Linked DNA regions of Homo sapiens. The protein of the gene in region 7 purifies or fractionates together with the protein of the main gene of each other region. This does not show direct contact. Each region holds a gene or a part of one and is shown on either strand. Other genes may lie near its edges.

Region 1 (5,050 bases), on a different chromosome or scaffold from region 7:
AGACTGTGCTATGCAGCAAGACCCCATCTCTGGAAAAATAAAATAGTTACTGAACCCTATGTAACTTTTTTCCACTCAGAATGTAAAGAGATTGTGTTTGTTTTACACATGAGAAGAAACTTTGTATCTATAATGCTTATAAATCTCATGACAAAAGAATAAGAATAATATCTATCTAATTTAATTTGAATTATTTATTTGCCTTAAGAAATGATTTATATTTTCTTGTATATTACCCAGAGAGTAATCATAATTTCCAGTAAGGCTGTTCCAATACAGCATAAAAATTTACCTAATAAATACTTCCTTAAAAAATCTGATACAAAATTAAACCACAAATTATCTTTACTGGTTAAAGCCTAAGGATAACTAATGCATTCAAGAGACAAATATGTGGTTGTTTTTTTTTTTATGTTTTTGTGGAGATACGGGTCTCACTATGTTGCCTAGGCTATTCTTGAACTTCTATGCTCAAGCAATCCTCCTGCCTCGGCCTCCCAAAGTGCTGGGATTACAGACATGAGCCACTGAGACCAGCCTTGTTTCAAACTTCACAGTACCCAAAGAATCACCTGGAGATAATGTTAAAATGCAAACGCCTTAGGACAACCCCAAGATTCTGACTCAGCAAGTTTGCGAAGGTGGACTAAGAATTTACATTTCCACAGGCTCCAGCTGATGCTGTCTGTGATGTTCCCATATGGCACACTCTGAGGAACAATGCACTAGGCTGTATAACTTACCTCAACTTTATATATAAGTTTTTGATATTCGTTTCTTAGTACATTGAGTTATCCAACCAGCAGTGAGTAGGGTAATTTTTACACAAATTTTCCTAGGAATGTAATGAAAACATTTTTTCCTTCACTCTAGTGTAATCATGTCAACACATGGCTGCTATGGAAAAATATGTAGCCTTAAAAACTCCAGGAAATTAAATTGAATTTCCAAATACATATATTCAGTCATATGTGAGATATGTATCAGTGAGCACTTAGAGTCATTTCACCATAAATATAATAATTTTTTATCATATAGTACCCAAAAGATTACTGAATTTGGCAAATGTTTACGTTCACTTTGTAACTTAAAATATTCTAAAGTCAATAGAAGATGGTAAAAGTATGAGATAAATAATGATTTGAAGAAAAACTCTTGAAGTATATGAAGACTGTAATTTTATTATGCCAGTTACCACGAGTTATCAGAGAACATGTAAAATCTTGATAACATGGTAAGTATTATTTGTGTCATAGAGTTGTTCCACCTTGGACACATACTTGTGGAAACATCTTTATCACTGCAATTATTTCTATGCCTGGTTTCCTCCAGCATGCTTTTCTGTCATCTGACTCACTCAGCGCTAGACTAACAGTGGGATTAACATGCAGTGGGTACAGTTGTTTCCTGGTTACTTTGTCTTCACAATCATCTATTGCAAAATCACTTTGTTACGGTTATTTTTATCATTTGTAGAGACAGATTTTGGGCATTACTTTTAGTTTCCATAATGTGATCTCATAATTGCCATTATTTAACAAAAACAAATGGGGGACTTCAGAGTGTTTAAATACATTGGCCCTCTAGGGTAGCACATCATCTCTTGAAGCTTCACTTCAACTTCACTACTTCTGTAGTCTCATCTTGAGTAAAAGGTAATATGTTCATGTATAATCGAATATGTTGTCTTAATCTAGAGTGTTGCTTCCTAAAATCTTTTGAAAACTAATTATAAAAATGTGTATTTATGTAATGATAATTTCTCATAAAGAAACAATTGAGAGAAATGATGACCTTCTTAGGATCTGAAGGTAAGTTGAGAATCTGAATAACTATACATTGAAATCAGCAATCATCATGCAAAGTAAATAATGTGGAATATGGAGACATATTCCAACTTCTCTCCTGATGGAACTTCTGAAAAGCTTTTTATTTCCTTGTCTACGTACTGGCATCTACTCTGCTACTTACTACTTTTACCTTTATTCGAAGTTCATATTTTAAGAAAATAGCATACGTTCTCTTTTTTGCAAATGTATATATTGTTTCACAAGTTTAACTTTTAAAAATTTACTTTTTTCCCATAAGTAAACATTTCTCACTACCTTTTCATTGACCTTTCCATCATTTTAAACAGTTATGTCATTCTGCATAATAAAAAATGTTGTATAACAGTCATGCTTTACTGCCTTACTGTTTTATATTACTTAAGTTGTTTTCATTCAGTTGTGATATGGCAGAAAACAAAGATTTTACTATTTCATATTTTTATTATTTTTCATTGGGGAAATATTTTTTTAAAACCATGACATATATATTTATATATCTATGTCTATATATCCATCTTTCAGTTTATCAAGGTTAGTAAAACAAAACTACTCTTCTATGAGCATTTTTTGATTCCATACTTTCAATAAAATTTACAGGTATAAAATACACTAAAGTTTTTATGCTTTTTGCATCATAAAATGACTGATGGGTAGGTTTATCTATCAGGTGATAGAAAAACCCCAAAGTACATATTATTTTTACACTTACTCTAATACCAGAAATTTCCTTTTTTTTTTTTTTTTTTTTTTAATTTGAGACAGAGTTTCGCTCTTGTTGCCCAGGCTGGAGTGCAATGGTGCAATCTCGGCTCACCGCAACCTCCACCTCCCGGGCTCAAGTGATTCTCCTGCCTCAGCTTCCTAAGTAGCTGGGATTATAGGCACTCACCACCATGCCCAGCTAAATTTTTATTATTATTATTTTTAGTAGAGACGGGGTTTCTCCATGTTGGTCAGGCTGGTCTTGAACTCCTGACCACAGGTGATCTGCCCACCTTGGCCTTCCAAAGTGCTGTGATTACAGGCATGAGCCACCACACCCGGCCAGAAATTTCAGTTTGAATAACTGAGGCAAATCAGTGAATAAGTAACAAAGCAAATGCCATAAATCATGAGTTCTGCTTTATGTTTTGGAGATTTGGGGTTATTAATAACAGTAATTTTTTTTATAATTAGGTAAAAAATATTCTTGTAATGTTTTATCACAAGTTATTGGTAAAAGAGATTAAAATAATGAAGACCATTACCTTTATATGAATTACTCTATAGTTTTCAATAAACAGGTAAAAATGTCATTTATTTGTAACTCTTGTGGCAATTATGTGTTTCACTGAAAATGTCTTTATTTAGATGTTTATAATTTACAAATAAATAATCTAACGTTTTTTGTTTAATAACAAAGGAACTGGGTTAACTGGCTTATACTGTTTATGATAACATATCACAGTCCCAGATAAGGTTAATTTTGTTGAATGAGATTATTTAAAATATTAAGTCATCTTCACCAATTCAACTTCTCAGAGGAGGTACGAATATTTTCTCTGTGACTTCTTATCAGTTTGATTGTTCTCTACCCAGTATCATTAATGTTCTAATCTGAAGGTGACCCCATTTTTGCAACTCTCAAGACAGAAATCTGGCTCATTTTCAGTAACATTATAAAGCGATTGCCCATTGCTGGTCATTCTAACATCCAAACATCTCTTTACACTGTACCTTAAATATCATCCCTAATGTCATTATTTAAGGCGCCCCATAATATCCAGTTCTATCTTCCCTACATTTTGAACTGTTCCAGTTTTATCTTCTGATAAACTGCTCCAGTTTTATCTTCCCTACATTTTGAACTGTTTGCACTTTCAATATGGTATCCTCCCTCTTTTTCATTTTCTTGCAGTCACCCAACACCTCTTTACTCATCCTGCATAATCCAACTCAAGCTTTACTTTCTTCTTTACCTTCATACCCCTATTCTCTTGGTCTGTGTAAGGTGTTGATTTGTGTGTTACTCTAATGCCTTAGCATTTCCATATCAATACACTCACTTTTACTTATCAGTGTCTCCAACAAGTCTCCAAGTTTCATGATGTCAGGCAATGGGTTTTAATTGTCTTTCTATCTGGAGTGTGTCTCCCAGTGCTTTGGAGCGTAGTATAATCAATAAACTTTTGATGGGCGAATGCAAGAAAAAATGTGATACTGAATTTCCACATATGTTTTCAGAGAACCCAGCCAACTATGAAGTTCCTTGTCTTTGCCTTCATCTTGGCTCTCATGGTTTCCATGATTGTAAGTATATCAGGACATTTGAAGAATATGTTCTCAGTACCTATCCCAAGAGTCTCTCTATTCCTTGTGTTCTGGCATATATTGGTGTTTACTTGAATACAGCTTTATATGTTTAAATGTTTCCATATGAACTTTTTTTTGTACTAACCTACATAAGCTATATAAGGATTTAGAATAAATAGTCATTATTCATCTACAGACACTAAAGTATATTTAGCTTAGTGTGAAATAAAAGAAAGTTTTACTGAACTTCTTAAATATGTGGAACTGAGAGCTTCTAAAAGTATCTTTAAACATGTAATGCTCTAGACAATCTGAAGTTAGAAATCTCAGGAATGAACTAGGTGCACTTGAGTGGAATTCAAGTATTAGAAGATGTCAAAGTAGAAATTTTCAAGTCATTCCTTGCAAAAACTAACTTAAAATTAGTATACAATTATTTAGCACACACTTTCTAAAATAAAGCTGCTTATTTTTAACTATAAAACAAAACTTCAGATCTATGACATGTTATGAGTTCCCAGCTTTTATTGTCATTTACTACTATGTATCACTAGGTAAAGCACTTGACTTCTCTGGAGCTCTTTCTTCTACTCTACTTCCTTCTATTTCTCCTGTCCCTTTTCTATGACATTAGTAGGAAACTGGCCATGAAAGAATAAAAATAGTTCAACTTACCTGGTAAATTCTAACAGATATTTCAAAAACTAATTTGATTATAAAATCACAGTATACCACATTATTTGTTATAAAAGGATAGGTGTCTAAAAAATAAAAAATAAAAATGTAAGGAAAACAGAGAAAAACATAATGCTTGTCTCTGTCAGTAAATAAAAGTTATGTGTAAGTAGCCTTTGAGCTGCTGAAAACATATTCTTATGAAAAAATACAAAGTTTCACTTTTCATTCACCAATGATAACCATTTACTCCC
Region 2 (4,454 bases), on a different chromosome or scaffold from region 7:
TCAAGATTGGTTGAATCCATAGATACAGAGGGCCAACTGTATATATATTACTTTCCGGCAGGATCTCAGAATGTGCCCAGTAAAGTCCATTCACAACATTGACCAGGATGGGAGCATGAAATGAATCTCTTCAATTTGAGGGAAAAATATGAACACATAATACTCAATCTGTCCTTTAAAGATAATGTTTCTTGTAGAAACGCTTCCTCTGAGTAAACCTGACCTGATTGGCTGGCAAACTAACAACAATGAATGGCTTCCAAAAGAGAGGGTTGGGGTGGGGGGAGGGGAACCTGCTACTGTAGAAACTAGTAGAGCAAGCTCATAAATGATCAGGATCCTGTTGAGCGCAGTTTCAAGCATTCATCATAATCTTCAGTATACCCAGAAAGTTTAGCATGTGTACTTTATTCTTCCTAGTGCCTATCTTCAGTTGCCACAGCACTGCAGTCTGGATTCCTTCCGTACTGTGAACCTGTGTATCAGCGTTGTGTAAACCTAGTACAGAAGACTCTTGCACAAGCCATGGTAATTTTTTTAAAATGTCTTCCTCTTCTTGACATGGTGGACATTTTTCTAAAGATAGGTATAATGTATACAGACTTTTTAAGTAGTTAATTAAAACCAAACTTACAAAAAACATTGTGTCTAATTTCAGCTAAACAATGCTCAACCAGATCAATATGAAGCTCCAGATAAAGATTTTATGATAGTGGCTCTTGATTTACTGAGTGGCCTGGCTGAAGGACTTGGAGGCAACATTGAACAGCTGGTAGCCCGAAGTAACATCCTGACACTAATGTATCAGTGCATGCAGGTGAGACTTGAAAGGTGAAAATGAATTGAAGCCTGTTTCTCTGTGTCACATTGGGGTTAATTTCTTCTTATTTCTTGTAGGATAAAATGCCAGAAGTTCGACAGAGTTCTTTTGCCCTGTTAGGTGACCTCACAAAAGCTTGCTTTCAGCATGTTAAGCCTTGTATAGGTATGAATATTTTCTACTGCTATGAATATGGTTTTTTAAAGTTAACATTTACATCAGCTTTGTTTTTTTATTATTAAACTGAAATTGCATGGAATCCCAACATTTATAAATGTACACTTTATTGGTTAAAGTAAACTTGCTGTGATTGAAACAGGCAAGATGGCAGGAACCCCTAATATTTCCTTGAGCTTGCCATCATCTCAGCTTTTTAGGTACTCCTGTGACTGGAGGAAAGCTTAGTAATATACTTTAGAGTAAAGGACATGCCCACCAGGGAAGCCTTGGTACCATGGACTAGTTAATAGATTCTTTTTTGAGTAGCCACCTTTTTGGTAGAGGTACACAGAAATAGTAATAATCAGGTTTTCTTCTCTAGCAAACCAGCATACTTTTTCAGATATTGCAGAAAACTTCCAACAAATGTCACTTTAACTGAGACTGGGCCTGGGGGCTCACACCTGTAATGCCAGCACTTTGGGAAGCCAAGGCAGGCAGATCACTTGAGGTCAGGAGTGCGAGATTCGAGACTAGCATAGCATTTGTCTTGGCCTTCTGTGACAATGATAAGAAATTCCTTGAATGTTGTACCCGGAATTGTTCTTAAACCTATGGGTTATAAATGAGTTATGGGATTTTTTTCCCCCTTTTCTGCATCTCAGCATGTTGGGTAACAATTATTTTAATACAGCCGGGCACGGCGGCTCAGACCTGTAATGCCAGCACTTTGGAAGGCCAAGGCGGGCAGGTCACGAAGTCAGGAGATCAAGACCATCCTGGCTAACACGGTGAAACCCCGCTTCTACTAAAAATACAAAAACTTAGCCAGGCGTGGTGGCTTGTGCCTGTAGTTCTAGCTACTTGGGAAACTGAGGCAGGAAAATCGCTTGAACCCGGGAGGCAGAGTCTGCAGTGAGCTGATACTGTACCACTACACTCCAGCCTGGGCAACAGAGCAAGACTCCGTCTCAAAAAAAATTATTTTAATACTTCATTTAAACCTTAATTTAAAATATTAATTGAATGTTTTGTCATCTGATATAATTGTGCTTTTGGATAACCATTTCTCAAAAAACTAACATAATTAACATTAATTATGATATATTAAGAACCATCAAGTTTAAACCTAACAGTGTAATGAATTCTTATGGGAAGCTTATCATTCTCATATTTACCACCTAATTTAGTTTTTTAGTTGAAACTTATATGAAAGGATTTAATTTTTTTATTATAAAGTGTTTAAGACGTACAAAAGTAGAAAAAATGTAACAAACCTCCTATCACCCAGCTTCAACTGTCCAGTCCTGTTTCCTATATACTGTTGTCAGTGGTGAGACACATAGATCTCAGATATTTTGGAGCAAATCTCAAACACAGCATTTGAAGTCTTAATATTTTAGTACATACTATACTATCTCTTCTTACAATTGTTTTTTGTTAAAGAAACCATGTTTTTTATTCTAAAGAGTTTCCTTTACTGTGGATTTTACTGATTGCATCTTTGTTGTCTTTAACATGTTCCTCTGTCCGTTGTATTTACTGTAAATTGTTTGGATACAGAGACTGAGGTTTAATGAGATTTACGTTGTTTTGTTTTTAAGACTTTATAGATGGTATTGTGTACTTAGTGTACATAGTGTCTAGTTGTCCCTCCTTTTTTTTTTTTTAATGTTACCAATCTTGATGATTGTCTCAATTAGTGGTTCTCAACTAGGGGCAATTTTGCCATTCGGGGAACATTTGCCAGTGTCTGGAGACATTTTGTTTGATGCTGGAGAGGTGCCATTGATGTCTAGTGGGTAGAAGCAAAGGATGTTGCTAAACATCTTATAATACAGGAGACAGCTCCCCTTCCCCCCAACAAAAAAATGATCTGGCCCAAACTGTCAATATTGCTGAGATCAAGAAACCCTGGCTTACATCTCCTGATTTATTAGGAGTTTAAAAAATTATGATATTCTAATTCTTCATTTAATAATGAAGATACTTATATAGGGAGACATTTCCCATATCAATAAATTACTATCCTGAGGTAAAATCATATAGCAGAGGCAAGATAAATACTTGATTCTTTTTTTTATTTACCAATTTTCAAAATAATGAATTGATTCCTATCATCCTCCAAAGGTATCTTTGATGTTTCAGAGTTTTGTTTTTGTTTGATTGTTTTTAGTGCTAGTGTGACTTCATGATGTTCAAGCTGTTGTACTGCTTGCAGTGAGAACTTAAGTTGGCTCCCGAGTCCTTTCATTATGACAAGATAGTCCACTTATTTTGCACATTTCCTGCCTTTGCCTGTAATGTGACGTTTTCTGAGAGTCCATTTTTTTTTAGTGGAAAATGTTATTCAGAGACCACAATCAGAGCACAAGAGTGAAAATTGCTTTAAAAGCCAAAATCATTGATTTTTTTTTTTTAGTCTAATTACAAGAGATTACTCTGACCAACTCTTTTTAGTGGTATGTAAAATATACCCAAACTTGTATTTCCTGTTCCACATTATTTGAAAGTTCATTGGCCAGATACTGTTTTCTTCAGTTTCTTAAGATAAACATTACCAACTCCTTTAAAAAATATTTTTAAATACAGTTGCCTAGTTTATTTCCACCAATTTTAAAATTGATGTTGCAGTAATTTTTTTAATGGTGAAACTTGTTATTTCTTGCTTAGATTTCTGTTTCCACCTAGTAGATTTCCTTTAAAGTACAATATACTGCTATTGAAAAGTTTACTACATAGTTTAAATTTTTTTTCTAGCTGATTTCATGCCAATATTGGGAACCAACCTAAATCCAGAATTCATTTCAGTCTGCAACAATGCCACATGGGCAATTGGAGAAATCTCCATTCAAATGGGTAAGATGTTTTTCCCTATTTAAAAGCATAAGGCCTGGCGCGGTGGCTCACGCCTGTAATCCCAGCACTTCGGGAGGCTGAGGCGGGCAGATCACCTGAGGTCAGGAGTTTGAGACCAGCCTGGTTGACATGGTGAAACCCCGTCTCTACTAAAAATACAAAAATTAGCTGGCGTGGTAGCGGGTGCCTATAATCCCAACTATTTGGGAGGCTGAGTCAGGAGAATCACTTGAACCTGGGAGGCAGAGGTTTCAGTGAGCTGAGATTGCACCACTGCACTCCAGCCTGGTGACGGAGCGAAACTTTGTCTCAAAATAAATAAATAAAATATAAATTTTTAGGTGCCTTGATATTTTTGTAATTGCTTTAATTTTAATTATTTGTATTTCTATATTTATATGACATGTCAGAGTTAATACGGGAAGCAAAATATTTCACATTGATATTTTAACGTTCAATTTTTTCTTTTTTGTTTTTTTCTTTTTGGGATGATCTCTAGGTATAGAGATGCAGCCTTATATTCCTATGGTGTTGCACCAGCTTGTAGAAATCATTAACAGACCCAACACACCAAAGACGTTGTTAGAGAATACAGGTACCATATGACTGAACTGTT
Region 3 (4,454 bases), on a different chromosome or scaffold from region 7:
GGATTACAGGCATGAGCCACCACGCCTGGCCAAGTGTTTAAATTTTTTTTTTTTTTTTTTGAGACGGAGTTTCGCTCTTGTTGCCCAGGCTGGAGTGCAATGGCGCGACCTCGGCTCACCGCAACCTCCACCTCCCGGGTTCAAGCAATTCTCCTGCCTCAGCCTCCCGAGTAGCTGGGATTACAGGCATGCCTACCACGCCTGGCTAATTTTGTATTTGCAGTAGAGATGGGGTTTCTCCACGTTGGTCAGGCTGGTCTCGAACTCTAAACCTCAGGTGATCCACCCGCCTCAGCCTCCCAAAGTGCTGGGATTACAGGTGTGAGCCACTGCGCCCGGCTTAGGTGTTTACATTTTTAACAGAACTTTCTACTATCTAACCATCACCATGAGCTAAAGTTATTGCAAACTGAAAGTAGTCTTCAACTGTACTTTTTTTTGTTTTTTTGAGACAGACTTTTGCTCTTGTCACCCAGGCTGCAGTGCAATGGCGTGATGTCGGCTCACTGCAACCTCTGCCTCCTGGGTTCAAGGACTTGCCTGCCCCAGCCTCCCAAGTAGCTGGGATTACAAGCATGCGCCACCATGTCTGGCTGTGTTCTCTAGTTTTTTTTGTTTCTGTTTTTTTGGAGATGGAGTCTCGTTCTGTTGCCCAGGATGGAGAACAGTAGTGCAATCTCAACTCACTGCAACCTCCGCCTCCTAGGTTCAAGCAATTTTCCTGCCTCAGCCTCCTGAGTAGCTGGGAATATAGGCATGTGCCACCATGCCTGGCTAGTTTTTTGTATTTTAGTAGAGACAGAGTTTGGTCATGTTGCCCAGGCTGGTCTCAAACTCCCGAGCTCAGGCAATCCACCCACCGTGGCCTCCCAAAGTGCTGGAATTACAGGCATGAGCCACCACACCTGGCCCAATTATACTTAAAAATAAACAAACTGGGGCTGGGTGTGGTGGCTCACGCCTGTAATCTCAGCAGTTTGGGAGGCCGAGGCGGGCGGGTCATGAGGTCAGGAGATTGATACCATCCTGGCTAACACAGTGAAACCCTGTCTCTACTAAAAATACAAAAAATTAGCCAGGTGTAGTGGCAGGTGCCTGTAGTCCCAGCTACTTGGGAGGCTGAGGCAGGAGAATGGCATGAACCCGGGAGGTAGAGCTTGCAGTGAGCTGACATCGCATCACTGCACTACAGCCTGGGCGACAGAGCAAGACGCCATCTCAAACAAACAAACAAACAAACAAAAAAAAACGAAAAAAGCCAACTGTAGCCAAAGCCAAAATTAAGTTATCTTGAATTAAATCCCTCAGATTAGAGTTAATTCCTATCACCTGCAACAACTATACCTTTTATATCATCTTAAATGATAAAATTTAATGATATAAAATTAAACGATATAAAATTTTAAACCTATAAAAGTCACTAATTAAAGAGGAGTTACAGTTAATTAACATACCATGGGCTGCTCTTCTTTGATCAGCCAGAGTTGCTATGTCCTGTAACTGTTTTCTTTGTTCTTCATTAAGACCGTGAGTCAGTGCCTGATACCACACAGGATTACGATTTTGAATAGCTATCAAAAAATAAAAACAAGGGAAAAACAACATGAATAAGAGAGGCTTGGTAGCTCCGTTCTACACTATTCCTCCTACTCCATCCCGAGGCAATACTGAAATTCTGATCTATTTTATATTCTCCCAATAATTTTTAAAATTACCATATTTGTGAAACAACAGATATAGGAATAAAAATTAACTACAGCTTATCTTTATGGCTCCAAAAACTCTAATCATTCTTACGATCCATCTCTCCAGCAAATAAGGACTCAGCCTAACTAGTTCTTATATAGTAAGTAACAAACCAGGGAGACTTCAGGAATAAAGCTAACCCAACCATCTTAAAAGATTCAGAGCTAAAGCAACTTGAAAATCATCAAGGCTACTGTGGTACATGGGCCCCGTGTTAGGAACCATTCTTTAGGGACTGACATGTGGTGTCTGTCTACAAAGTACAAGGCACAGAAACAACAAGTTTGGCACCTCAATCAGTTCTTGCTGCCATGTAGCTCAGAAACCAGCACTTTGTGCTTCTGTAACCTTGCATCAAAACTGCCTTGTCATGGGCTTAGAAGACTCAAATCCTTGGTTATCAGATAATGTATTCTATCAAAAAATATATTCATCAGTTCCCAGTGCATAGGAAATGATATATAACAGCAATTAACTCTGAGAGGAAAAGATGTTTCAAATACAGGGGAAATTTAATTTCTTAACGTGGATGGTAAAACACAAATGCTATACCTTGTTGAAATCCAAGTAAATGATGGTAAAAACCAACCAGAACCTAGTATTCTGGAGCCACATACAATGACACATTATAGGAACAGTGGACTTTTCTTGGAATATTTAACAGTGTACGTGGCTCCAGAATCCTAGGCATATATAATTCAAAAATCTCAAGGTTAAATTAGTTGTTTAAAGCTAAAAATTTGATTATGCCGAAAGTGCTAATTTAGTAATAATAGATTAAATTAGTTAACACATCACAGAATATAGGAAAAAAAGAATTATAAGATCATATGCCATAAATGCTAATATACTCTTAACACGTTAAGTATAGGTTTGGGCAGGAAAAAAGGATACACACAAATAATAACATACAACAAACAGGTATACACGTAAGAGTGGTTACTTCTGAGGAAAGCTGGGAGATTGGGAATCAGAAGTAGCAAAGAGGCACTGTCACTGTATACTTTTTTGAACTACATTATTTTCCTATAATCTTCCAAAATTACAATCTAAATGTAAAATAACAGGATGAATAAAGAATACTCAGAAACTATGGCAACCTTAGAAATAATTTTGGTTACTTTGCCTAACCAGCCTTTTCTAGTCTGGGTTTGATATCCTCCAAACTCTTCCTTTAAAGGGCAGGCAGAAACTACAACAGATTTGTTCAATGAAATGGATCCACATGTAACAAGTTGACTTACTTTGAAAGATAGCTTTAAATATCTGATACTCATCAACAGGGTTATCTTCATCATCAATGATTGTGGAATAGCCTTCCAGAGCAGTCTCTTCAGCATCATCTTCTTCCCAATCTTCATCATCTCCATCTTCACCAGCCTGCTTAGCCAGAATCTCCAAATATTCTTGCCCATCTTCATCAATATCATCTTCATCACTCCCCAGTTCCTCTGCCAAGTCATAATATAAGTACTTTTATAACAATGACATATTTTGTTACTCAACAAATTGACAATCATCTCAATCACTGTCAGTAAATTACAAGTCACAAGTGACAAGAGAGAGCTCCAGGAATTGGTGTTTAAATACATGTTCAATAATGAATAGAAATGAAAATTTCCATAGGAGTCCAAGAAAACCAACCTTGATTTAATGTGTTCTTAATACTAGACATCTGAAAAAGAACTGCGCAGTATGAACACACTACCGTTACACCCACCAAACCTTTTGTAAGATTTTTTTTAAAAGGCTGGCTAAGTTAGTAAATGATAAAAGACAAAAATAGCAATAGCTATCTTATGTTGAAACCCTTATAATAATTTCTCTTAATATTTTATCAATTTATACACTGATAGTGTACAGTCTTATAGATAAAATGTATTTATCAACATTTAATTAACATAATGTTATAGTGCAAGTATGCTTAGGTTTTAGAATTAATAGATGATAGGATGGATGTCTCCAATAAATTTAGTCAACATTAAGACCATAAATCTTTAGAAGCTTAAAAATAAAATGAAAACCCCATAATTCGCCGGGCGCGGTGGCTCACGCCTGTAATCCCAACACTTTAGGAGGCCAAGGCAGGCAGATCATGAGGTCAGGAGATTGAGACCACCCTGGCCAACACGGTGAAACCCCATCTCTACTAAAAATACAAAAATTAGCCGGTGTGGTGGCACACGCCTGTAATCCCAGCTACTTGGGAGGCTGAGGCAGGAGAATCGCTTGAACCCGGGAGTCGGAGGTTGCAGTGAGCCAAGATTGCCATTGCACTCCAGCTTGGCGACAGAACGAGATTCCGTCTCAACAACAACAACAAAAAAAAACAAACAAAAAAAACCCCCATAAATCTTGTAATAGTAACTATAATGATATGTGTACCTTTGTTAATACTGTTAATTCAGTGCCATCTGCCAAGCACTATTTAAGCGTCAAGGATTCCCTCATGTAATCCCCACAACTTTTTTTAAAGAAATGGGGTTTCACGGCTCAGTGCAGTGGCTCACGCCTGTAATCCCAGCACTTTGGGAGGCCCAGGAGGGTGGATCATCTGAGGTCAGGAGTTCCAGACCAGCCTGGCCAACATGGTGAAATCCTGTCTCTACTAAAAATACAAAAATAAGCTGGGCATGGTGGCACGTGCCTATAATCCCAGCTATCTGGGGGGCTGAGGCAGGAGAATTGCTTGAACCCGGGAGGCAGAT
Region 4 (4,133 bases), on a different chromosome or scaffold from region 7:
GAAGTGCAATGGCGCGATCTTGGCTCACTGCAACCTCTGCCTCCCTGGTTCAAGCAGTTCTCCTGCCTCAGCTTCCCAAGTAGCTGGGATTACAGGTGTGTGCCACCATGCCCAGCTAATTTTTGTATTTTTAGTAGAGAGGGGTAGAGAGGGGATTTCATCATGTTGGCCAGGCTGGTCTTGAACTCCTGACCTCAGGTGATCTGCCCATCTCAGCCTCCCAAAGTGCTGGGATTACAGGCGTGAGCCACCGCACCCAGCCTAAAAGCCATTTGTAAAGAAGTAATATTTAAGACTTTTTTCAAGAGCTGGGGGGAGTGTTCACATGCCCACGAAGGTTCTTTGCCAGAATTACGCACCCACACATGCACCCAGTAGAAGGGCTTTGCTGGGAGTGCTGATTCTGCTCATTCTGGAGCTTATATTTCCTCAGTTCCAGAACTACTTCTTATAAAAGTTATAAATCACAACATTTAAATAAGATCCCAAAGTGCTACTGCCTTCTTAGAAATTCAGCTATAGTCATTATATTAATAAATCTTTGTATAGGTGAGAGATGGGTTTTGGTCTGTTCACCCTCAATCCTGTTCTTTCCTGACTTTAAGTCGATTCATTCACCACTCACTCACTCACCAGCATTTACTGTATAGCTACTACAGGGCAAGCCCTGGGCTAGGGAGTCAAAGAGAAATGACGACTGAAGTACGGTCCTGGCCCTGGAGCAGTGTAGTCACATTCTACAATGTACAGTTGGATTAATGCTAATTACTTACTCAGACTTCGCAAAAGGAAACAACCAGAGAAACAGTCTTTTTCCCATGATCGTAAACACTCCCTATCTGGTGGACTTGCTGTTCTTCCTTCTATATTCAAAAACAACCAATGCCTCTTTTACTTTTAACTTTATTTGGCAAAGCAGCACTGCATAAACTGTTCAAGAACTAGGACACAGCTTACACAGCATGTTAAGTTCATATACATTATCAGCAGCAAATTAGAAACAGAAAACCACACTAAACTACAAGTCTCCTATAATTTTGAGAGAGAGAGAAGGGAAGAACTAAGTCAGTTATGTCCAATCTGAACAGCTGAGTGTTTACAGGACATCACCTGCCATCTTATGGTTTAATATTTACAAATGCCTAGTTTTAAGGTAACAAAGCAGCTGATTGTATCTACAACATGCTATTCTATGACACCACATCAAAAGCTTTAAAAAGAAAGCTCATCTCTATTTTCTTAGTAGCATCTAACAGATATCCAAATACCAAGAATCTTAACTTGTGAATGGTGGTGTTATCCAATGCACAAAAGCAATCTGATAAATTAATATCAGAACAGAATTAAGTGTCCAAGAAAAGAAAAACCACTCCTCAAAATCAATTCACAAACTAAGTTTTCCATTTTACAGAACCCTTTCTTTTAATATTTCCAAGTAAAATATGGGCATGTTAAAGTAATATTACACAAATTTATACTTTGCATCCTTCCTCTACCAATTTGGCTCTGTGCCTCTTTGAAGAATCAGAAACCCTAAAAAAACACACATTTTCATGCTGAAAATAACAGTGTAACAAAGTCCAAAACAAGCTGTGATGGTGTTGGTTTTCAAAAAGCTTTGAGGACTGAGATGAGCAATCCACTGTAATTTTATACTGGTCAAGCTGATGTTGCTTTTACAATTCATCCCTGTGAGGAAAAAAGAGAGAAATACATTAGTAGGAGTTACACACTACCCAATTTGGCTTTATAATAGTTTAGACACAACTATTAAGTCAATAAAAATGCGCTGATCACCAAGCAATATATTTAAAAAATAAAAATGCAAACAACCCAAGTGAAAGCAACAGAGGGTCAGCCATTCCAAACATCTTCCATGCCACTCCAGAACCAAGTATGCAACCTAAAGGGCGTGAGTTCTTCATTTTTGATTTCTAAAAATAGATTTCTTCCTTCAATGTCAAAATTCAGAAAAAATATCTTTTAGATCTACGGTCATCTTTACACTATAGTAAAATGACAACTTAAGTGTTTTAGAGTTCAAATGAGTTGATAGTTACATTCACAAAATTGGACAGAAATGTGGTCTTTTGCTCAGAATGTCCACTAGCAATTGTGGAGTGGGTCAATCTCAACCCAAGCGCTCTGAGAGAAAAGGCATCATCTGTAGGTATAATATACCTGTCAGCTGATTTCATAAGGCAGCTTTATCAGCTCCAAAAGAAACCATTCACTCAGCCAGGTGCAGCACTGTACCAGCAACTGCCAGTGAGAGGAAGGAAGGAATAAAAATGCAGTCTAAAATAAACTGTATGGTATCTCAGTTATACCTCAGTAAAACTGTTAAAAGTGAAAAAATGAATAAAACCACGAGAGAAGCCCACAAGCCTCATAGCTGAAGGTAATGTGAGTGACAAAAACAAGAACTTTAGGGGTAAAGAAGCATGATATTGATAATTAAGTCTCAAGTGGTTTAAGAAAAAGGAAAAAAATTACATATATGTATATATAGAAAGAGGGGAAAGAAATGTAGAAAAATGATAATAATTGATGACTCTGGATGAAGAGATTTAGGAGTTATTTGTACTATCCTAGCAACTTGTTGGCAATAAAAATTAAAGTTAAAAGTTTTGAAAAAGTTGTTAAGATAAATTTGAAGGGAAGAAGAAATAAAGAGCTCATAATTTCACAAGTAAGTGGGGGTAAATTACTGGACAATTTTTTTAAACTAAATTTTGTAAATTGTGCAAGAAAATATTTTTAAAATCATTTCTCCAATAAGCTGCCTTTATCCTATAGTATTGGATTATCTATTAAATGACAAATCATAAGTCTGCTTCCTCTTAATATATTCTTCCAAATAACAATGTTATAATTCTCATAGAACAGCTTTTACTTAACTCATGCAGGCATTAAAATATTTGGTCAACAAAGAATTATTTGCAAAGTGCTCTATTCATAAAGTAAAATTCACTTCTGCTTTTTAGAATATGAACTGAAGATATTGTTTTTCTTGTTTTGGCTTTTTTTTTTTTTTTTTTTTTTTGAGACAGAGTCTCGCTCTGTCACCTAGGCTGGAGTGCAGTGGTGTGATCATGGCTCACTGCAACCTCTGCCTCCCAGGTTCCAGCAATTCTCCTGCCTCAGCCTCCCGAGTCGCTGGGATTACAGGCAGGCACCACCATACCCGGCTAAATTTTTTTTGTATTATTAGTAGAGACAGGGTTTCACCACGTTGCTCAGGCTGGTCTCGAACTCCTGACCTCAAGTGATCTGCCCACCTCAGCCTCCCAAAGTGCTGGGATTACAGGTGTGAGCCACCATGCCCAAGCCAAAGATATTGTTATTTTTAAATAATTTACTACAATTTGCCAGGGGCAGTGGCTCACACCTGTAATCCCAGCACTTTGGGAGGCCAAGGCGGGCGGATCATGAGGTCAGGAGATCGAGACCATCCTGGCTAACATGGTGAAACCTCGTCTCTACTAAAAATACAAATAATTAGCCGGGTGTGGTGGCATGCACCTGTAATCCTAGCTATTCGGGAGGCTGAGGCAGGAGAATCGCTTAAACCAGGGAGGCGGAGGTTGCAGCAAGCTGAGATCACGCCACTGCACTCCAGCCTGAGCGACAGAGCGAGACTCCATCTCAGAAAACAATAATAATAATAATAATTTACTACAATTTACCTGCTGCAAGACATTAAGTATACTGTAAATAAATTAATGCCCCCTCAACAACATAGGTACCATTTTTCCAACTATCCTCTCTGTCTAAAAAATACTTTAAAAAAGGAAAAGAAATTAGGTTTATAGACCTGAATTTTAAAATTAGAGGTGCTAGGGAAAAACAAAAACTTGCTGCCAGCGCGTGCACAATTTTTTAAAAGCCTAATACTCTAAAATCCATGTAACTTTCAAGTTATTAAATTTTCCCCAATGTTCAAAATTCTGTATGACCATTTCTTTATCTGACTTACATGTATAGATCATTTACAATAAAAAATAGTATGTACTAAATTTTTAGAAAGGCTCTTTAAAATTGCTATATACTATGCTAAATATATTCATTAGGTTAATAACTGTATATATTTCTACTAGTATATAATTATACATAATTTAATTATTTATTAG
Region 5 (4,454 bases), on a different chromosome or scaffold from region 7:
CAGAGGACCTCACTTAGAAGGTGGCATTTGAGTAAAGACATATTGGATGAGAGGAATAGAGCCATGCAGACATCTAGGGGAAGGAAGGTTCCAGGCAGAGGACACAGTAAGCTCAAAGGCCTTGCCTATGGGAGTAAGCCTTGTGGGAAGGGTGCCTTAACATGGATCATGAACTGCTCACCAGATGACATGGAGAGAAGACGCAGGATATGGTGCAGATGCAGGTTCCTGGAGCTGGTGGAAGTTATCTTTGGGCTGACATTAAAAAACCCAGTCACCAGCTGAGCGGGAGAGCAGTCAGCATGGTTGCATGCTTTCCTCCAGCCATTGTCAGCTGTGTGGAGACAAGCACAGCCTGACAGAGAGGCAGATTGAGCCAGGGCTGTGGTTCAGCCAAAGGAGTTGGAAGAAATGCAAAAGAGCTTTGGGCTTGGAAATGTATGGAATGACTGACCCTGGGTTGAAGACAGGTAATTAGAGAAATGGAGACTTGAGGGGGTTAGAGATAGTGGAGAGGCAGGAGGATCAATGGATTGAAAGGTAGTGAGGTTGCAGGGCTGTAAGATCAGTACATTAGCAGAAGAGATTCGGACAGGAGGTGGTAGTTGGAGAAAGATGTTTGAATGTGTGATTGTGGATCAGCTGCCAGCATTTTAGGGTATGAGAATCAGCAGCTAAGATGAGGAGGAGAACAAGATCATTGAAAAAGAGGAGGCTGAGGCACCAAGGACCAGGTCCCAAAAGGATCGTCAATGTGGATCCTGCAGTTACCAGGAATTATGACAAGAATAATGCTGCAGAGAGTGACAGGGAGGAAGGAGCTCAGCTATTCAAATGAGAGGGAGTAACCAGGGGTTGGTAGGCAGACACAGTTGGAAGTGGTCAGAGGCCCTGTCTGAGGACAGGAGAGTCAAAGCTCAATGCTTTAGGAGGAGGCAGGGAACATGATCTGAAAGTCACATGATGAGCAAGGAAGACACCTACTCCACCTATGAACCAAGTGATACAGACAAGCTAAGAGAGAGAACAGCCCCCACTCAAGAGGACCACAGGGACTGCAGCATCAGGGGAGAGCCAGGTTTCTGGCAAAGCAAGAAGATGAAGAGAAGAAAATAGTCACAGAAGAGGTTGAAGACATGGAGGGGGGTTGTTGATGATGATATTAAGTTGTAAGGAGTTCTTACAAAAGAATTCAAAGAAATGAAGTCAGCACATGTTAAAAACAATCTATCAAGTACAAATTTAGGTCTCTTATCAGATAAGGTATTATTATTCTAATTTTATGGGTGAGAAAACTGAGACACATGAGTTTAAGCAACTTGCCGAGGACACCTCACTAATAATGTCAGAGATGAGATGATTAGGCCACGACTCCTGAGCCTGCACACTCAACCACGCACACACTGGCTCCCAGCAGTCAGCCTGCAATGCTTCCTACTTGCCAATTCCTTCTGGCCATGCTTCAATGCTTGAGAAAATAGACTAATTATTATATTCATATTCTTTTTTTTTTTTTTTGAGATGGAGTCTCGCACTGTCACTCAGGCTGGAGTGCAGTGGTGAGATCTCAGCTCACTGCAACTTCTGCCTCCCGGATTCAAGCAATTCTCCTGCCTCAGCCTCCCGAGTACCTGAGATTAAAGGCGCCTGCCACCACGCCCAGCTAATTTTTTTTTGTGTGTGTGTATTTTTAATAGAGACGGGGTTTCACCATGTTGATCAGGCTGGTCTCGAACTCCTGACCTTGTGATCTGCCCACCTCGGCCTCCTAAAGTGCTGGGATTACAGGTGTAAGCCACCGCCCCCGGCCTGTATTCATATTCTTTTTCAAACATGAAAGAACTTATTCAAGTTCCTATTGCCATGGGGCTAGAGGCCAAGAATGAAAAGGGTTATCACCATAGAAGGCGGTGTGGGTGGAGGTGGTAGTAAGTATTCTCTACCAATGCTACCATTGCTCAGGGCCCCACATCTGGTTGTGCAGCTCCATGCGATGCCTGTGGCTAAGGGGTGCAAAGGGACAGGGAACCAGCCAAAGTTCTGCTCGCTGAGCTGGAGAGCCTGGCTCAGGGCTGCATCTGGAGAAGTGGCCACCTCTTATCCTCACACAATGGAGGCATCTGCCTGCCCCGTCCTGAACCCACAGGACTGCATCACCACAGAGGAGGTGTCTTTTTCTTTTTTTTTTTCTTTGTTTTTTTTTTTTTTGAGATGGAGTCTCGCTCTGTCACCCAGGCTGGAGTGCAGTGGCGCGATCTTGGCTCACTGCAAGCTCCGCCTCCTGGGTTCACGCCATTCTCCTGCCTCAGCCTCCCGAGTAGCTGGGACTACAGGCGCCCGCCACTACGCCCGGCTAACTTTTTTGTATTTTTAGTAGAGACGGGGTTTCACCGTGGTCTCGATCTCCTGACCTCGTGATCCGCCCGCCTCGGCCTCCCAAAGTGCTGGGATTACAGGCGTGAGCCACTGCGCCCGGCCGAGGTGTCTTTTTCTAATTTGTTCACCCAGATGGGGCACCATAGGCCAGGGTCATTCTGAATGCACACATCATTTTTGGAACTCATTGTTAGAAATTATCTTCAACACCAGTGGGAATATAAAGTCAACCTTGAAGAATAACTTTGCTTTTAGAAAGAGTTAAAAGTCATTTGTTGGCCAGGCATGGTGGCTCACAGCTGTAATCCCAGCACTTTGGAAGGCCGAGGCGGGCGGATCACTTGAGGTCCGGAGTTTGAGACCAGCCCAGCCAACACGGTGAAAACCCGTCTCTACTAAAAATAAGAAAAATTAGCCATTCGTGGTGGCGAGTGCCTGTAATCCCAGCTACTCGGGAGGCTGAGGCAGGAGAATGGCTTGAACCTGGGAGGTGGAGGTTGCAGTGAGCTGAGATCTTGCCACTGCACTCCAGCCTGGGCAAGAGAGCGAGACTCCGTCTCAAAAAAAAAAAAAAAAAAAAGAAAAAGTCAGTTGTTGTCAAAAAATAACATGGGTGGTCAAGACCTGTGAAACTAAGAACTTTGTGATTCAGAAAATCATCATGGAAAGGGAGGTAATACTGGACAGAGGATCAGTCATTTCACATCTTGCAGAATATCTAAGACGATCCAGGATTTTTACAGAATGCCTGAAAATTACCATAGGATAAATACTGTGGTGGAAATGGGGGAAGCAATTCCAGTCCTCAGCCTGCCACAATCTATTTGTGTATCCTTCGGCAATTCATTGCTATCCCCTGGGGCTCGGCATCCTCTCCACTCACCAGTAAATGTGTGTGTGTGTGTGTGTGTGTGTGTGTGTGTGTGTGTGTGTGTGTGTGTGTGTGTGCATGTAAATGCATAGGGACAGTAGATGACCTATCTCCAGAGTACTCTCCAGCTCTGAGTTACTACTCTTTGATTAATTAAATCATTTTAAAGGATCAGAGCGTCAAACAGGCTTTATCATTTTAGGCTTGAGATTCTGACATTTATATTCCCCTGGGTTTCAGGATTTGTTGGAGTCTTCCTTTGCAGTCACTGAAACACATTTCAACCACAAGTTGTTTACTGTCCTAAGTATCATTTTATCTATTTTCCTTGAAAAAGCAAAGGTCTTGTTTTAATTCATCACTCAAGATACGGGACCAATGGTCAAAAAGACATTCCAAGCCTTCAAACGTTTTACCTGCTTGGGGTTCCGGTTTCTGACGTATCCGGTTTGGGAGAGATTCTCACCTCGTGGGTCATGTTCTCATTATCTCTGAATACACAACACACCTGAACTTTTCTACAGCTTCACTAATCCTGTAGGTGTTTAGCCTGCTGCATTATGTACCAGTCATCTTTCTGCTTTTTTTCTAAATATGGGCCTCTCAAATGCTCTTGCTCTTGACAATTGCTTTATCCTGTGTGCTTCTTTAAAAACATATCAAATGTTTCAATTGCAAATTGGTCTCATGCCACATAAAATTTGGTATTAATTCTAAATACTGAAGTTTCACTCCTTCGTCCCCTCTGTGACTACCACAGCAGAAAGCCTTGAAAATACTGTCATTGCAAGTGGAAGCATGATCCTACATGTGCCCCAGGAGACCCCTCTTCCTTTGTGTTTACAATTGCATAAGAAATTCTGAATCCACACTTTGCAGCCACATTTAGTGTCCTGACACAGAGAAAGGAGAGCCTGGTGGAGCTCTGTAGGATGGCTCAGGACTCCCTTTGCTCCATCCATTTGCACAGCTAGCTGCTATCAGAATTCACGGCAAGGGCGGTCACTGCCTTGGGGGATTTCTGATAGTGTCCCAACACCCTACTTGTAAAATGAAAAATAACTTTGTATTATCCTCTACCCTTTTCTCCAAGGTTGCATGTCTCCTATTTTGATCTGAACTGGCTGATCTGCAATGCCCTTAAGACTTAATATCAGATTTCTGCTTTAATAACAATAACGACATTAGATATACTGTTACAGAATAT
Region 6 (4,454 bases), on a different chromosome or scaffold from region 7:
TGAGACTCCGTCTCAAAAACGAAAAACAAAAAACAAAAAAACAAACAAAAAAAAAACCGCCTAACACGGTCATTTCACAACATTCTGCCTTTCATCCAGATATCACTCTATGTTCTGTTTACATAGAGCAAATCTTTATAGTGGATGGTCACTGTAAATGTGATAATGAAAGGCAATAGCTTTCATGTGGATCATCTTTCTTCCTTGTCCAACAGGTATGGCAGATCCCAGAAAATGGACTCACCCTTTCCCTGACTGAACCTGTGGTGATTTTGGAAGGCCACTCAAAGAGAGTCGGCATCGTGGCTTGGCATCCAACGGCCCGCAATGTGCTTCTTAGTGCAGGTGGGAGCTGAGCTCAGCGGTCCTCCCCTTGTCTTCCACTCTTGTGGCTCTCTGAGTGGGGGGAAGCAAATGTGTTTTGGTTGTGTGCTATATGGTTTTAAAGCAGATTATTAGGAAACCATGGTGAAGAGTATTGGGGTGCACTGCTCCCCCAGCCCACATACATACTTGTGTGTGTGTGCACGTGTGTGTGTTTCAAGGCCATTTCGACAACCTGAGGAAAGCTATGAATTTCCTGCTATAATTTCAGCAGGTTTCATGGTTCCTGCCAGGGCCCTCCATGAACCATAGTTTTGGTTATTTCTGATATGGTAGAAGGTGTACTTTGTTGGGAGCCAGAAGCCCTGTGTTCCCTCTGTGGTGTTGCTGCCAGCTTTGGGAGACCCCTATTAGGCAAATACACTCCTTCCTTTTAAAGAAAACTTTGATTTTCCCCTGCTATACAATTAGTACATGTATACTGTAGAGAACATATATAAACAAAAGGAAAAAAAAATCACTTTTAATCCCACCACTCAGAGAGAAGATCATTATTACTTTTTTGATGTTTCTTTCCGAAAGATATTTCTGTGCACATACATAAATTATTTTACATACAGAGATGGGTTCATACACTTTACACATGGGCTGCTTTCTGCACTTGGTGGTAGGCTGTGACCCTTTTCACGTGCCATTAAGCTCTCTTCCTATTTTTAATGACTTCATACTAATCCATTTTCTGGATATACCTCATTTTACTTGATAAGTCCCCTATTTCTGGACACTGGTGTTGTACAGAAATCTTTTCCTTTATCTAAAATTGGAGATTTCATTTTCTTTTATGAAAGCAATACAGAGAGCATGAGGGAACTTTGTGGGGTGATGGAAATATTCTGTATCTTGATCATAGTAGTGGCTACATGAGTTTATACATTTGTTGAAACTTAGCAAATATATACTTAAAATGGGTGCATTGTATTGTATGTAAGTTATACCTTAATAAAAGTGGTTTATTTAAAAAGTGATACTAATGTTAGAGATAGGATTTTTAAAGGTCTTTCCCCTCACCAGTAAAAAGGAGGAGGGGCAGTTCAGTTTTTAACTGGGAATACACAATGTTTATGACTCATAGTGAGTTAAATAAAAAATTATAATGCCAAGTAACTATTGAAACTAAGGCCCACTTTTCAAAAAAGATGCCATGTTTTTTATAATCACCATCGACTATACTTGGGAATCATTTTTGATGTTCTCTCAGAACCTCAGTCTGATTAAGGAGAGGAAAAAAATTCCAGAGCTGGAATTCCTTCATGGAAAATTCCCTGCTACCTTTCTCATCAAGGCTCAATACAGGGCAGCAGCAACAGACTGGTCTGCATTCTCCCTTTTACATGTGAAGGAGAATGGGTGATTGTCGTGTTCTGCATATTTTTAGGCTATATGATCCAGCTGCCGGGGCTGAAGTTACCTGTTTGCCTATAGGGAAGAAGGCAGAGGAAGGTTCAATTGTCCATCCCAGAGTTTAGCTTCAACTTTTGTTACTGTTGTGTAGTTTTTTTCTCCAGTTTCCTACTTCTTTTTTTTTTTTTTTTTTTTTTGAGATGGAGTTTCGCTCTTGTTGCTCAGGCTGGAGTGCAATGGCATGATCTCAGCTCACCGCAACCTCCGCCTCCTGAGTTCAAGCGATTCTCCTGCCTCAGCCTCCCAAGTAGCTGGGACTACAGGCATGTGCCACCACACCTGGCTAATGTTGTATTTTTAGTAGAGACAGGGTTTCTCCATGTTGGTCAGGCTGGTCTCCAACTCCTGACCTCAGGTGATCTGCCCGCCTCGGCCTCCCAGGGTGCTGGGATTACAGGCGTGAGCCACCGTGCCCGGCCAGTTTCCTACTTCTAACCCTTAGGTAACTTAAGTATCCTGGATGTTAGTGACTATTTTTTCTAAATGATTTCCAAATTGCTTTGTTGGCAAGAATCCACCTCTAGGATGTCCTTCCCGTATTTTGCTTCATCCTTGAACTAACATCCTAGGAGCAACACATGCTGCCTCTTTTTAAAGGGGCCTGGAGGCGTGGGGCAGACCCTTGAAGGAAGGAAGGAGTTGGTGAGCTGAGATGGTGAATGAGTTGACATTGTGGGCTTCTTTCAGAATCCGTTTCTGAATCTATGTAGCTACTTGATTACAGTTTGGGCTTCTCACCATGATCAGAGCAGTCTTGGCCTATTTTTCTCTTCATTTAAAGGTACAGATCTGTTGTGAGCAAACAGGCCTTACTCTTGGCTTTTCCCTTCCACTGTTGTACCATCTTTAATATCCCAAAGCTGTGTCTTAGAGTCTCACTGATTTGAATAACCTGCCACCCAGAGTTTTTGTTGAGTGCCCTAAACAGTCATTTAAACCTTTTACTTTTAGTTTATTTGGCACGTGAAAAGGGTCACAGCCTACCACCAAGTGCAGAAAGCAGCCCATGTGTAAAGTGTATGAACCCATCTCTGTATGTAAAATAATTTATGTATGTGCACAGAAATATCTTTCGGAAAGAAACATCAAAAAAGTAATAATGATCTTCTCTCTGAGTGGTGGGATTAAAAGTGATTTTTTTTCCTTTTGTTTATATATGTTCTCTATAGTATACATGTACTAATTGTATAGCAGGGGAAAATCAAAGTTTTCTTTAAAAGGAAGGAGCGTATTTGCCTAATAGGGGTCTCCCAAAGCTGGCAGCAACACCCTGATGCTTGTTTTACTAGAAAGGGAAACTTGAAGTCACTTGGGTCTACCAGCCCAGTTAACTCTTTAAAGAAAATAGGGTTCTGTTTTGGTGTGGTTCTTTGTTTTTGTTTGGTTGATTGTTTCATATGAACCCAAACTTAACAAGTTGTGTTTTTACTTTAACACTTTTATTTCTTTTATACAAACTTTTTCCTTTGTCACTTCAGTTTTTAACGCTGTTAGTAAGTAGGGCCTCTGGTAGGGCCTCTGACAATCAGCCGCATCTTTTCTCTCTCTCTCTTTCTCTCTCTCTCTCTCTGCATATACATATGTGTATTCTCACTGTATCTGTAGTTTTCTGAGTGTGTTACATAGGTGTTTCTAATCTTCTAATCTCTGATGGTTTTGCCTGTTTTAGGCTGTGATAATGCCATTATCATCTGGAATGTGGGAACAGGGGAAGCCCTTATAAACTTGGACGATATGCATTCAGACATGATTTACAATGTGAGCTGGAACCGGAATGGCAGTCTGATCTGCACAGCTTCCAAAGACAAGAAAGTGAGAGTCATTGATCCCAGGAAACAAGAGATTGTTGCTGTGAGTATTCCTAGGATGAAAACTCAGTAGTTGGAGCACTTGAGTGAGTGTGAGCTTTCTGCTTTTTAAGGCAGGCAGCGGTACTGGTCAGTGGGACCCTGTTGTGTGTAGACACCAACTGTGAATAAGAGAAGGCTTATAAAGGCTTCTGTCTCCCCAGTTGTGCTTCTCTCCAGAGTTGTAAATTTTCCAGCTTTTACTCAAGTCTCTCACTTTGTAGCCTTTTTTCACAAAGAAATAGTTTGTATCAGTTCACTAGAGTCCTTAAGAGTTTATAAGTCTTGATCAATTAAACCAATTGGCTGCATTCCTGATTTTGCAGCTTAGTATTGAATATTGATGAATCAATTCCTCACCCTTTTCCAAACACAGCTGTTAAAGATGCAACAGGTGGCCGGGCATGGTGGCTCACACTTGTAATCCCAGCACTTTGGGAGGCCGAGGTGGGTGGATCATTTGAGGTCAGGAGTTTGAGACCAGCCTGGCCAACATGGTGAAACTCTGTCTCTACTAAAAATACAAAAATAAATAAATAAATAAATAAATAAATGCGCAGGGCGAAAAGCAACAAGTTCTCTCATCAGCTCAGTGTCTTAGTTTCTGCCACCCAAACTGGACCTCAACAAAATCACATACCTTGACAAAAGATGGACATTTGGGTCTTCAGTCGGTGTTGAAACTACACATAGTAAGTCTGAGAAGTCCTCATTTGCCACACTCTGAGGCCCTTCCTGAGATGTGGTTGTTCTTTGGCTGCATCTCTTTTCAAGAGTTGGGCAATGATAGTAGCTGGTGCTTACTGAGCCCTGGGGACTTGC
Region 7 (4,454 bases):
CAAGCAGCCAGACACATCCCCAAAGTTGGTCTGTGTGCTCACAGACCCCCGTGCAAGCAGGGCGGCCATGGCCCATCTTGCCTGGACAGTCCCACCTCAGGCCGGTGGTGCTGAGTAATCACCAACAGCACATCCTTCCTTGGGCAAAGCTGTCTTACATTTGGGAGGACAGATGATGCAGTCGGCCTGCTCTTTGGAGTCTCCCAGACCTGCCCTCAGAGCCTCTCTCAGCTTTTGGACCCAGAGCCCATGAGTTTAATTCCCTTGCCCAGATCACGGAAGGTGATACACAGCGTATTTGGAAGTAGATGTGTGTGCATGTGTGTGCACATGTATGCATGTGTATGTGTGCATGTGTGCGCATGTATGTGTGGGTGAATGTGTGTATGTGCGCACGTGTGAATGTGTGCACATGTATGCATGTGTGTGCATGTGTGAATGTGGGTGCGTACACGTGTGCACCCATGTGCGTGTATGTGTGTGTGCACATGTGTGAATGTGTGCATGTGTGCACGTGTGCGTGTGTGAATGTGTGTGGATGTATGTGTGTGCACATGTGTGAATGTGCATGTGTGCATCTGTGCGTGTGTGGGTGCGTGTGTGTGCACATGTATGCATGTGCATGAATGTGTGTGCGTGTGTGCATGTGTGTGCATGTGAATGTGTGTGGGTGTATGTGTGTGCACATGTGTGAATGTGTGCATGTGTGCATGTGAGTGGGGTGTGTGTGCACATGTGTGTGTGAACGTGCATGCATTGTACGGTTGTGTGCGTGTGTGTGCATGTGTGTGCCTGTGTGTGGGTGTACGTGTGCATGTGCATGCATGTGTGTGGGAGTATGTGCATGTGCGTGCCTGTGTGTGGGTAGGTGTACGTGTGTGTGCCTGTGTGTGGGTGTGTGTGCATGTGTATGCCTGTGTGTGGGTGTATGTGCATGTGTGCATGTGTGTGCCTGTGTGTGGGAGTATGTGTGTGCGTGTGCATGTGAGTGCCTGTGTGCGCCTGTGTGCACATTTCTGGGAGAGATGCCAGCAGGGGATAGGATAAGAATAATCAGCTCATCCTTTTCCTTTTTTGCTGTGGCTTCTTGGAACCTCAGACACTTATTTTGTGACCTAATTATGCCAATGACTGTATCTTTAAATCCTGACAAAATGGTCTTCTGTCTTTTCTCTATGGTTTTAAACTTTCTTCTATATCTTGATTTCATCTGCTTTGCATACACATATTTTTACTGATCTCTCTCTTAAACCTTTTGGGGTGGTGGAACTAGCAGAACCCAAGTGTGGAAAATAACGAGGAGGTTTCAGACAGAATTCGGAAAGTGTTAGAAAAAAACCCCACCTCCCAGTCAGTGTGTGAAATGTCACTGTGCTACTGAGGGAGGACCTCACCCCCAGGCCCCTCCAATGACTGGTCTTCCTCCTGGAGAGGCCCAGAGGAGTCACTAGGAATTAGGAGCCCCCAGCACTGCCTGCAGACCCTTGTGCACCGGCCTCTGGTGTCTTGGCCCTCTTGCATGTCTGCCTATCACAGCCTGGCCACTGCACCCTCTCAGCCAGGGCTGCGACAGTGCCGGGCTGGGAGCAAAGCACTTCATAAATGCAGAAGGATGTTAACTCTGGGCATGATGCTCTCTGAAAATGATCTTTCTGGAAGGGCAGCAACTAGAGATGCTTACTGGCTGTATGCAGAACTTCCGGATGGTGTAGTCGACCAAAACCACGCAGTCCTCCACGCACACCCGGATGTTTCCATAGGTCCAGCAGCCTTGGTCGGGCCAGTACTGATGGCACTTTTCCTGCACGGAACAATTTAATAGAAGCAAATAGATCTGTGGGTGCAATGCATCATGACATCCCCCCACCCAACTACAGAAGGCCTCACACACACCAGCTGGAGTCACACAGCTCCCACAGCTGAGAAACAAGTTCACGTGTGTCGACCTCTTGAATGGGGAAACTGAGGCTGCGTAACTGGTGAACAGCAGCCTTGAAACTATGACTAGGATGCCCCAAGGCTTTCTGATGTAGACAGCAACAATGTCTCATTTCTTCATTCATTCACGAATCCCATACATTTTATTAACTGACCATCAACCAGTTATGCTGAGCCTGTAGCCTTCAGAGCTGGGCACCTAACTCCAAGTGACCCTCAGGCTAGAGGGCAAGGACGGTGCTCCCCCCAGACATTTCCCACTGGATTCAGCAATTTGTGTTTTTCCTGCTCAGTTCACTAAGGACAAAGTTAATTTGCACCACTGCCAGTCTGCCATTCAAGAGTGATGAACCTATGATTGGTCTAACGATCTTCATTTTTCTCTAGCAGGGACGAGGCTGCCGTGGAGTCTGCAGAAGAGGGTGCATTGCTACAGACAGGCCCATTTCTTTACCTTCCCGACCTCTGAAGCAAGAATGACCCAAAATACACGTTCCAGGAGCCCTTTCATTTTGCAGCACCGCCCGCAGCACCTGCCCGGTGGTGTCCTCCATCACTTCGCGAGTGAATGAGGACCCACCTCAAGGGGGAAAAGATCTACTTCATCTGCCAGAGAAACATGTCTGGAATGGAACAAGCCTGCCAGTAGTCAGAGAGTATATCCAGGGAATGGCCCCTGAGCAGCACAGCTCGTGGTCAAGCCTCCAGGATTAACAGTCTTATGAAACAAACAGCATCTGGTATTTAGTAGAGAGCAGCATCATTGTGTTATGACGGCTACCGACAACTTCCCCCTCCTTACACCTGGCTCCGGGCGGGGCTGCGGGGCTGTGGGTCACAGGCCATCTCTGATGCAGCCCAGGGGAATTGCAAATGCCTACATGTCCCGGTTTGGGTGAGTCTTGGCCCTATGGGGAGCCCTGGGGTCCCTCCTGAGCTTCTCACCTTGAAGGCTCTCCAGTAGGAACTGAGAACATGTGTCAGCCTCTCAAGGGCTCAGTGTTGGTGGCTGGTTTTATACCCCCTCCCTCTGCCTCCCTCCCACCCGATCATGAGATGCCAGGGCAGCTGTGTTTTGCAATGCAGAGCCCAGGATGTGGAAGCCAAGGAAACCACAACAGAAGTGTGAGCAATTAAGAAAAAGGGAACTCTATTGAGAAATGATTTCATCTGAATTGGTGAGAATGAGGACGCGGCAGCAGCCCAGCACTGAGTCACAGGAGTGGAAAAATCCAGTAGGAGGTTGTGGGGGAAGATGGAGAGAAAATGCCAGTGACACTTTCAGCAGAATGACTGAAAGAGGGAAGTGAGGGCGTCCTTGAGCCCCACTGCTTCTGTGCTGGTCTCATGCTTGGAGCACCAACCCCAGGAAGACTGGTCCCTATGGGCCATGGGTCACGGGGGACCCTGAGGCTCCTGATGAAGGGTCAGCCTCCTTTTCCCTCGCGTGGGTGTCCTCCTCCATGGCCGCTACAGCGCAGGCAGAGTGAAGAGTCCTGGGCTGGGAATCCCCTACTTCCCTCTGTCACTCTTCCCTCTTCCCCATGACAAAGCATGACAAGGGCAAGATTTGCAAGGGCAAAGGGGTGGCCCTCCACAGTCCTGTTTCAGCTCCCCCCAGAGCAGAATGAAAGCCTCCATCCTATTCCTGACCAGAAACGGTGGCTGGAGGCTGCTTCCTGTGTTTTGGGTGGCAATTAGTAAGCTGGCACTGCGGGGACCAGAGCACCTCCCAGCCTGCCCTTCCTGTGGGCTCCTGCCACCCATCTTCTGCCCCAGCTGAGCTCCCCAAGGCCTGGTACTCCCATCTAAAAATGGCAGCCCTTCCCCACAGTCCTCGCTACAATGCCTGGGAACTGCTGGGGCCAGGCCAGCAGATGACTGAGGAGCTCAGGACACAGCAGGCCCTGAGCAGGGCCGGGCAGGACACACGGCTCCCACTGAACCGGGCCTTCATGCCAGAACACGCCAGAAGCACAGCCTCCTAACTTCGCCCCACCTGTGGTAAGTGTCCCTCAGGCTCCCAGTTCTTCTTTCATTCTGGAGAGTGAGCTCACTGCCTATGGCATGGCTCCCTGCCTGTCACTCAACCCCACCCCCGCACCCAGGCTCCCCACAGCCACCACTTCTCAGCCCTGAATTTGAGCCCCTACTCCTTGCACCTGGGACAGAGCTGGCCCAGCACAGCAGATGCTAATGAGTACTTGTTACATTAGGAAACGAATCAGTTCAACTTTTCTTCTTTGTCAATGATTCAAATTCTTATAACGTACATGCATCCTTTTTTGAATTAGAAACAGCTAATTAAATATATTCGGATGACAAATCAACATTTCTTCAATATACCAACGTTTTCCAAAAGCATTTCTCTAGTCTGGATAATAAGCGCGAAATCATGTTCATTTCTAGCCTGAGCTCTGCCGCATGACACGCTCAACATCCTAAAACTCTAAGATTCATGTCTCTCATCAGGCAGGCAGAGCCATGGGGCCAGCCGGGGGCCACTCTTACTTGGG

Evidence for each region.
Region 1: the proteins of PTPRE (region 7) and STATH purify together in Homo sapiens (affinity purification with mass spectrometry; one large-scale study listed by BioGRID and IntAct). This does not show direct contact.
Region 2: the proteins of PTPRE (region 7) and TNPO1 purify together in Homo sapiens (affinity purification with mass spectrometry, with the first as the bait; one large-scale study listed by BioGRID). This does not show direct contact.
Region 3: the proteins of PTPRE (region 7) and IPO7 purify together in Homo sapiens (affinity purification with mass spectrometry, with the first as the bait; one large-scale study listed by BioGRID). This does not show direct contact.
Region 4: the proteins of PTPRE (region 7) and PCMT1 purify together in Homo sapiens (affinity purification with mass spectrometry, with the first as the bait; one large-scale study listed by BioGRID). This does not show direct contact.
Region 5: the proteins of PTPRE (region 7) and CPVL purify together in Homo sapiens (affinity purification with mass spectrometry; one large-scale study listed by BioGRID and IntAct). This does not show direct contact.
Region 6: the proteins of PTPRE (region 7) and CORO1C purify together in Homo sapiens (affinity purification with mass spectrometry, with the first as the bait; one large-scale study listed by BioGRID). This does not show direct contact.

Annotation. Positions count from the first base shown.
Region 1 is NC_000004.12:69,994,371-69,999,420, forward strand, and holds the start of STATH (statherin isoform a precursor), read left to right. Parts: upstream 1-1,595; 5' UTR 1,596-1,655; intron 1,656-4,052; 5' UTR 4,053-4,067; coding exon 4,068-4,118; intron 4,119-5,050. UniProt on the Homo sapiens protein: Salivary protein that stabilizes saliva supersaturated with calcium salts by inhibiting the precipitation of calcium phosphate salts. It also modulates hydroxyapatite crystal formation on the tooth surface.
Region 2 is NC_000005.10:72,892,719-72,897,172, forward strand, and holds part of TNPO1 (transportin-1), read left to right. Parts: intron 1-420; coding exon 421-528; intron 529-658; coding exon 659-817; intron 818-897; coding exon 898-985; intron 986-3,739; coding exon 3,740-3,838; intron 3,839-4,337; coding exon 4,338-4,433; intron 4,434-4,454. UniProt on the Homo sapiens protein: Functions in nuclear protein import as nuclear transport receptor. Serves as receptor for nuclear localization signals (NLS) in cargo substrates.
Region 3 is NC_000011.10:9,439,198-9,443,651, reverse strand, and holds part of IPO7 (importin-7), read right to left. Parts: intron 3,198-4,454; coding exon 2,991-3,197; intron 1,572-2,990; coding exon 1,455-1,571; intron 1-1,454. UniProt on the Homo sapiens protein: Functions in nuclear protein import, either by acting as autonomous nuclear transport receptor or as an adapter-like protein in association with the importin-beta subunit KPNB1.
Region 4 is NC_000006.12:149,808,172-149,812,304, reverse strand, and holds the end of PCMT1 (protein-L-isoaspartate(D-aspartate) O-methyltransferase), read right to left. Parts: intron 1,690-4,133; coding exon of another isoform or gene 1,677-1,689; 3' UTR 886-1,676; downstream 1-885. UniProt on the Homo sapiens protein: Initiates the repair of damaged proteins by catalyzing methyl esterification of L-isoaspartyl and D-aspartyl residues produced by spontaneous isomerization and racemization of L-aspartyl and L-asparaginyl residues in aging peptides and proteins.
Region 5 is NC_000007.14:29,066,505-29,070,958, forward strand, and holds part of CPVL (probable serine carboxypeptidase CPVL isoform b precursor), read right to left. Parts: intron 1-4,454. UniProt on the Homo sapiens protein: May be involved in the digestion of phagocytosed particles in the lysosome, participation in an inflammatory protease cascade, and trimming of peptides for antigen presentation.
Region 6 is NC_000012.12:108,657,920-108,662,373, reverse strand, and holds part of CORO1C (coronin-1C), read left to right. Parts: intron 1-215; coding exon 216-345; intron 346-3,454; coding exon 3,455-3,636; intron 3,637-4,454. UniProt on the Homo sapiens protein: Plays a role in directed cell migration by regulating the activation and subcellular location of RAC1. Increases the presence of activated RAC1 at the leading edge of migrating cells.
Region 7 is NC_000010.11:128,063,422-128,067,875, reverse strand, and holds part of PTPRE (receptor-type tyrosine-protein phosphatase epsilon isoform 1 precursor), read right to left. Parts: intron 1,802-4,454; coding exon 1,682-1,801; intron 1-1,681. UniProt on the Homo sapiens protein: Isoform 1 plays a critical role in signaling transduction pathways and phosphoprotein network topology in red blood cells. May play a role in osteoclast formation and function.